Linked DNA regions of Homo sapiens. The protein of the gene in region 1 interacts with the protein of each later gene in a biochemical or structural test. Each region holds a gene or a part of one and is shown on either strand. Other genes may lie near its edges.

Region 1 (3,746 bases):
TGGTTAAATACAGCATTGAGTGGAGCACCAGCCATGAGCCCTGTTGGCGAGGTGACCCATGAGGGTTGGGGTGGAGGGCCAAGGAGCTGGGTGGGGTGCCAAGCCTCTGTCCCCACCCCAGGCCCAGATGAAGGACTGCATGCGCGAGCTGGATGACACCCGCGCCTCTCGTGAGGAGATCCTGGCCCAGGCCAAAGAGAACGAGAAGAAGCTGAAGAGCATGGAGGCCGAGATGATCCAGTTGCAGGAGGTGGGTGGGGCTGCAATGGAGAGCGGCACCGCTGCCCTGCGGCCAGCAGGTGGCAGCGTGGGGCTTTCAGCTGAGGACAGGGCTGGAGTCCTACTGGGCTCCAGGAATTGGCTGGGGATGGCTCTCAGGTTACATAAGGATTCCCTCCAGGGTTCCGTTTCATAGCGGGGCTCCCTCGTATGATCAGAGTGTGTGTGTGTGTGAAACTGGCATCCCTCACATGAGATGAGGCTTTGTGGCCACCACCACCTCCTGCTGTGAATGCTGCCTGGTGAGAAGGGGTCTGAGCGTCCCCTCGGCCGCCCTGCCCGTCGCACCTGAGCCCGTCCTGAAGTGTTTCCCAGGTCTGGAGGGTGCCCTGCAGCGTGATGTGCCGGCTGCGAGTGCGTCCAGGGTGTAGCCATCTGCCTGTGGCCTCCAGAGCTGACTCCAAGCTCTGGCTTACCCAGAACAGGGAGGGGCCGCCCTGAGTGACTCTGTCCACGTGGTCTCCCTGGTTAGGCCAGGACACTTCTTACTTATCGCCATACCCTGGCACCTGGCTTGATTCCTAGCACTTAAATGTAAGAGTTTTATAAACATATGGTGTTTAAGCTATATCTTCAGGGGGGCACCAGCCCTGTGAGCTAGAGGGTTTCTGGAGGAAGGGCTTCGTGGGGAGGTGGGCCTGGGGAAGGGCTTGAGGGGAGGGTGCCTGGGGCTGGGAAGGATGGTCTTGTGGGGCTGTGGCTGCCTTTAGGTCACACTCTGGGTCTTTGTGGCAGGAACTGGCAGCCGCGGAGCGTGCCAAGCGCCAGGCCCAGCAGGAGCGGGATGAGCTGGCTGACGAGATCGCCAACAGCAGCGGCAAAGGGTGAGCTGAGTGAGGGGGCAGAGTTGGGGGGGACCAGGTGTGTCCCCAGGGTAGGCCCCTCACTTCTCCCGCCCACCCCGCAGAGCCCTGGCGTTAGAGGAGAAGCGGCGTCTGGAGGCCCGCATCGCCCAGCTGGAGGAGGAGCTGGAGGAGGAGCAGGGCAACACGGAGCTGATCAACGACCGGCTGAAGAAGGCCAACCTGCAGGTGGGTGCCAGGACTTCTCCCACTCTGGGCTCTGGCTGGAGCCACCACGGCAGAGCTGGCCTTGGACCCAGCCGGCAGAAGCACAGGCCAAGTGCCAGCTGCTCCCCAGGCGCTTAGGGGAAAATGTCCAGGCACCTGGACCTGAAAGGTCCCCCTCTGGCTTCTGTGTTGGGTGTTCAGAAGTTTCTAATCTTCCCTTTTCTGGGAGACCCAAGACTCTGGACCCCAAGGGTTTGGTGGGATCCTGCTGCCACCTTCCTCTGGCCCTGCTCATGCCCTCCAGCCAGGGCCCCAGCCCTCCCCAAGGTCACTGGCCCTTCTTCTGCAGATCGACCAGATCAACACCGACCTGAACCTGGAGCGCAGCCACGCCCAGAAGAACGAGAATGCTCGGCAGCAGCTGGAACGCCAGAACAAGGAGCTTAAGGTCAAGCTGCAGGAGATGGAGGGCACTGTCAAGTCCAAGTACAAGGCCTCCATCACCGCCCTCGAGGCCAAGATTGCACAGCTGGAGGAGCAGCTGGACAACGAGACCAAGTACGTGCCCCTGGCCCCGCCCAACCCCAGCTGTCCTGGAAAAAACTCTGGCCCCCCTGCAGTCCTGCCCAAATCTGGGCCACAACCAGCTCTCTGTCTCCTGAGCCTGGGGCTGTTTCCCTCCCTCCTGATGGGGCCCTCATCCCTTCCACAGGTTGGGTGGTTGGGGGAGCTTGTGGGGTTTGAACAGGATTCTCTGTTCCACCTCTAAAGCCAGGAGTTTTGGTGGCTGTGTCTGAGAGTGAATCAGAGCAGGAGGTACAGGGGGGTCCTGCCCACTAGGACAGTTGTCCTATGGGCTCAGCAGGACTGAGACTTCCTTGGAGGGAATGGGGTTTACAGTAGGCCCCCAGACCTCTTTTCCAGTTACATAGATGCTCTTTGAGGTGTGTCGCTTCCCTTACCTGAGCCCATTTCCTCATCTGTAAATGGGGCTATTTGCAGTGCCCGTCGTAAGAAGCCGGGTACACATAGGTGTCTAGCAAAGGCCTCCCTACGTGATCCCTAGATGCCAGTGAGCCCCGGGGAATGGGTGGTCCTGGTTAGGGCTTGTTGGCCGGACCCTCTGAAGGAGGGTGTTCCCTCTGAGCCACCTTGTCTGTCATGCAGGGAGCGCCAGGCAGCCTGCAAACAGGTGCGTCGGACCGAGAAGAAGCTGAAGGATGTGCTGCTGCAGGTGGATGACGAGCGGAGGAACGCCGAGCAGTACAAGGACCAGGTGTGGGCGCTGGTGGGGCAGTGAGAAGGGCAGCGGGGCTGGGCAGCAGATGGGGTGACAGGCAGGGCAGTGGGGCTGACTGGCTGCACGCCCAGAGCCCCTAACCGGGGCCACGGGCCACACGTCCATCTCCGCAGGCCGACAAGGCATCTACCCGCCTGAAGCAGCTCAAGCGGCAGCTGGAGGAGGCCGAAGAGGAGGCCCAGCGGGCCAACGCCTCCCGCCGGAAACTGCAGCGCGAGCTGGAGGACGCCACTGAGACGGCCGATGCCATGAACCGCGAAGTCAGCTCCCTAAAGAACAAGCTCAGGTGAGCCGCCCTGCCCACCCGCCCCTTTGCCTCGGCACTTCTCTCAAAAGGTAGCTTGTTCCTCAACCAGAGCCCACAAGCAAGGCACGAATGTCACCAAGAAAGGACTGCACAAAGCAATCCCTGCCCCTTCTGGCTCCTTGCCTTTGAGGCTTTAGCTTAGTGTTTTGAACACACAGTAAACTCTAGGTAGTTTATTCCCAGCTGTCCTAAAAGTCTATTGTCTTTTGAATTGGAAGTTGCTTGAGGCCACCTGGCCCAGTCCTGGCACATGTTAGGTGCCTCAGTTAAATATCTGCAAAACGAATGTGAGCCTCATGAGCAATGCCTACAGAGGTTAAAAACGCTCCTTTGCGTTTCTCAGGGAGTGTTAACACTCAAGAAGTAGTGAATGTTTGAAGCAGAGGATCTTATTCTCTGAGATTCTCATTTCTTACGTGTTTTTTTGTGGGTTTTTTGAGACTCTCATTTTGTGTTTTTTGAGATACTCATTTCTTACATGTTTTTTTCTTATGTGTTTACGTGTTTTTTTTATTTTTTTTGTTTTTTTTTTTTGAGACGGAGTTTCGCTCTTGTTGCCCAGACTGGAGTGCAATGGTGTAATCTCGGCTTGCTGCAACCTCTGCCTCCCGGGTTCAAGCGATTCTCCTCCCTCAGCCCCTGGAGTAGCTGGGATTACAGGCATGCACCACTATGCCCGGCTAATTTTTGTATTTTTAGTGGAGACGGGGTTTTACCATGTTGGTCAGGCTGGTCTCAAACTCCTGACCTCAGGTGCTCCACCCGCCTCGGCCTCCCAGAGAGCTGAGATTACAAGGATGAGCCACCGTGCCAGGCCTTCATGGGGCTCTTTTTGTAAGCATAAGTAGTC
Region 2 (3,746 bases), on another chromosome or scaffold:
GGGATTACAGGCATGAGCCACCATGCCTGGACAAGAAGTTTTATATACAAGTTTGACAACTGATTAAAGTGCTTGTGAAAGATACAGATTCCTGGGCCCCACCCTATAAATCCTGATACAAGAGATCTGGGTAGGGTGGTTGGAGCCTGGGAATCTGCACTTTTGACAAATGCCTCAGATGTTTCTGATACAGCTTGGGAACCAAAGGCAGCTTGTAAACTAGTACATTCAATGCTTTAAGCACTTCACATTGCCCTTGTATTTCAGGCTCTAAATGCCTTGAAGCTTGATCTGAAAAGAATATATGATCATCCTAACATGTAGGTTTACCAAAGATGGTAAACTAGAAGATGGTAGACTTCTTACAAATCTTGAGTTCCAAATGGCTACTCTTCTTGGTGGGTCTGAAGATTTCTGAGAACTCTCTGACCCAGTCACTGTAAGAGACCTAACAAAGAAATTGTATGGAAGACAGAGATCGAGAAGGATTTACTTGCCTTAGAAGAGCTTTCAGAACCTGTTAACTGTTTACAGATTAACGCTTTAAAGAAGATGGGTTAAGGAGAGGAAAGGAGATTAAATGTGTTTATAGAAGAACAACAAATGCCTAGCACTTAGGGAGGCTGAAGTGGGTGGATTGCTTGAGTTCAGAAGTTCGAGACCAGCCTGGGCAACATGGTGAAACTCCGTATCTACAAAAATTACAAAAATTAGCCAGGTGTAGTGGCTTGCACATGTAGTCCTAGCTACTTGCGGGGGCTGAGGCTGGAGGATTGCTTGAGCCCAGGAGGTGGAGGTTGCAGTGAGCCGACATAGTGCCACTGCACTCCAGCCCGGTGACAGAGCGAGACCCTGGCTCAACAACAACAGCAACAACAACAAAAAGAAAAACAACAAAATGCCAATACACATATGAGAGATTACAATTTTCCAATAAACAAAGAAATGCTTATTAAAACCACATTGAGAAATGAGGGGAAAAAACCTGTAAACTGTCTGCAAATGTGAATTCACCAGGCAAAAATTCATAATAAACTAAATGAGTAGGTGTCCCTAATTTTAAGTCGGTTGTCAGGGATGAATGACTAGCATTGTTAATTACACTTGTAATAATGTGAGCATCATTTTGCCTGTGTGCTTTGTGCCACCTCTGCCAACACCCTGGGATCCACCCCAAATCACTGACCACAACCTTAATCAAGACTGCCTAGGCCGGGCATGGTGGCTCACGCCTGTAATCCTAGCACTCTGGAAGGCTGAGGCATGAAGATCGCTTGAGTCCAGAGTTTGAGACCAGCCTGGGCAACATAGTGAGACCCCATTTCTAAAATAAATAAATAAATAAATAAATAAATAAATAAATAAATAAATAAAATTAGCCAGGCACTGTGGTGTGTGCCTGTAGTCCCAACTACTCTCTGGAGCCTGAAGTGGAAGGATCACTTGAGCCTGGGAGGTCAAGGATGCAGTGAGCCATGATCCTGCCACTGCACTCCAGCCTGGGCAACAGAGCAAGACTCCATCTCTAAAAAAAGAAGAAAGAAAGAAAGAGAGAAAGAAAGAAAGAAAGAAAGAAAGAAAGAAAGAAAGAAAGAAAGAAAGAAAGAGAAGATGCCTATCCAGAGGAATCCACCAAAACAAAACAAAACAAACAAAAAAAATGAAAAAAAAACCAGAAATAACAAAACATTTGTATTGTATGTTACACATGAAGCACATTAAGTGATTTCCTTTGTTCATTGTAACCTTGTGAGGGAACTGGATTTTTGTCCCTATTATTCCCATTGCATAGATAAATAAACTGAGGCTTGACATGCCCAATAAGTCACAGGTAGTAAAAGCAGTGCGTTAGCTTAAATCTCTGATCTCCTCACGCCCCACACTGACTCAACAGTAACAATACATTACTACAAAGGATGTCTGTGATGACAGTGGCCATCCCATTTGATCCTCGTTATTCTTCTTTTATCGAAGGAAACTGAGAGTCACCTTCTTTTCTAGGCAGTTAGGTAACTGAAGCCGAAAGGTATTGTGACAGATCCACTGGGCTGTAAAAGGCAGCGTGTGGAGGTGGAGCCCAGAGTTTCTGCCTCCACAGTTAAAAGCTCAGACAGGGCTTTGGGAGCAGGGCCTGCAAATCAAAGATGAAAGAACAACCTGTCTTGGAGCGCTTGCAGGTAAGCTCAGGCTGCTCGACTGGCGGGGAACAAGGACCTTAGGCGATTCGCTAGATCTGCGCCCCCGGCCTTAGATAGAAGTGGGTGGGGCCAGGGACACTACATCTAACGAGGATCTAGAATAGCTAGGATTTATGAAATACCGGCTTTCAAGTTCTCTGGTCTCCACCCAAAGATGATTATCCTATCTAAGGTAGTGTACGCTACTACAGGGCAGGTCCCGCAGCCCCCGTTTCAAGAGCTGGGATGCGGCCATAGCGGAGGTGGTGTCAGAGCGGAAACCTAGCGGGGGTCGGGGGTTCAGCTCGGGGCGGTGGGAAACACCCCGGGAGAGGAGGCAGCTCTGATTCCGCTCCGGGCCGGAGGGAGAGGAGTTCGGAGGTGGCTTGAGCTGAGAATCCGGAGGAGAGAAGGCGCGTTTTGAGCTGCCACGGGCACAGATCTCAGACCCGGACGCTGACTAGCCGGGGGTCGCGGCTTTCCGAGGCGGCTGGAGAAGTGCCCAGACGGCCGTCCCTCCGCGCCCCTGCGCGTCCCCGTGCGCCCAGTGTTCCCCGTGCAGGAGTCCCGGAGCGATGACAGCGCCGGTTACGGTAAACACCCGCCCCGCCGCAGTCCGCTTCCTTCCCCAACGCGGCGCCGCCCGGACTTGCAACCTCAGGAGTCCCCGCTGGCTCCTCTCCACCGCTGGCATATGGCGCAACAGGAAGTTCTGGGGGCTTGGAGAGGGAGGGTGCTCCTGGCTGTTGGGAGAGCACTGGAGACGCTTGGGAGAGTAGTGGAGATCCTGGTAATTTCTTGGTCTCGCCTATTTTGTCTGGACTTTCTCACACTGTGTATGAAAAATAAGTATAATTGAGCACATTGTATTTCAGGAATAGTCCAGGCAGCTTAGCAAACGTTAGCTCATTTCAGCCTGCTCTGATAAGAACATATGCTCTGGAGCCAGGTAGCCTGAATTAGCATCCCAGCTGCATCACTACCTGTGATTTTGGGCGAGTTAACATCTGTTCTTCGGCTTTCTCATCTGGAAAATGGGATAATACGATTTGTAGTTTCAAGATGAATTGAAATGCTACATGCCATTTGCACTTAGAATAATGCCTGACGTATTTAGCAGGTTGTAAGAGTTTGGGATTCTTAACTATTTCATCCTGGCAGTAATCCTATAAAGTCCAAGTATCCTGTCTCTCCCATCTCCACCGGTTTACAGGTGAGGAAAATGAAACCAAAGGAGAAAAGCAGATTTGAGATTTGAACTCAGGTCAGTGCTTTAAGACACGGAGAACATAAAAAAGAAAAAAAAAAAAGAGAAAAAAAGACACTGAGAACATAGATGTTCTAGTCATACACATCATTTGTGATTATTTGTTCTAGGGAGAAATGATCACCTTTAATTGTTAAAGTGGGAAACGAGTTATTCAATTTCTTTCCCCCTGTATACAGATTTTGATGTTTCACTGTCATCTGCTTTGGGTTCTTACAGGACTGATAAAGCGTTAGCTATTTTGGCCAGACTGGAATCTGGGCTTGACTTTAAGAATCTGGTTGTTTCTTATGTTTCCCACC

What was found.
Region 2: of the proteins of MYH9 (region 1) and TRPM6, one has a biochemical effect on the other in vitro, tested with the Homo sapiens proteins (one study listed by IntAct).

Annotation. Positions count from the first base shown.
Region 1 is NC_000022.11:36,283,222-36,286,967, reverse strand, and holds part of MYH9 (myosin-9), read left to right. Parts: intron 1-60; exon of another isoform or gene 61-121; coding exon 122-250; intron 251-1,014; coding exon 1,015-1,103; intron 1,104-1,186; coding exon 1,187-1,310; intron 1,311-1,638; coding exon 1,639-1,847; intron 1,848-2,456; coding exon 2,457-2,565; intron 2,566-2,702; coding exon 2,703-2,875; intron 2,876-3,746. UniProt on the Homo sapiens protein: Cellular myosin that appears to play a role in cytokinesis, cell shape, and specialized functions such as secretion and capping. Required for cortical actin clearance prior to oocyte exocytosis. Promotes cell motility in conjunction with S100A4.
Region 2 is NC_000009.12:74,886,255-74,890,000, reverse strand, and holds the start of TRPM6 (transient receptor potential cation channel subfamily M member 6), read left to right. Parts: upstream 1-2,079; 5' UTR 2,080-2,144; coding exon 2,145-2,177; intron 2,178-2,280; exon of another isoform or gene 2,281-2,352; coding exon of another isoform or gene 2,353-2,370; intron 2,371-2,653; exon of another isoform or gene 2,654-2,752; coding exon of another isoform or gene 2,753-2,770; intron 2,771-3,746. UniProt on the Homo sapiens protein: Bifunctional protein that combines an ion channel with an intrinsic kinase domain, enabling it to modulate cellular functions either by conducting ions through the pore or by phosphorylating downstream proteins via its kinase domain.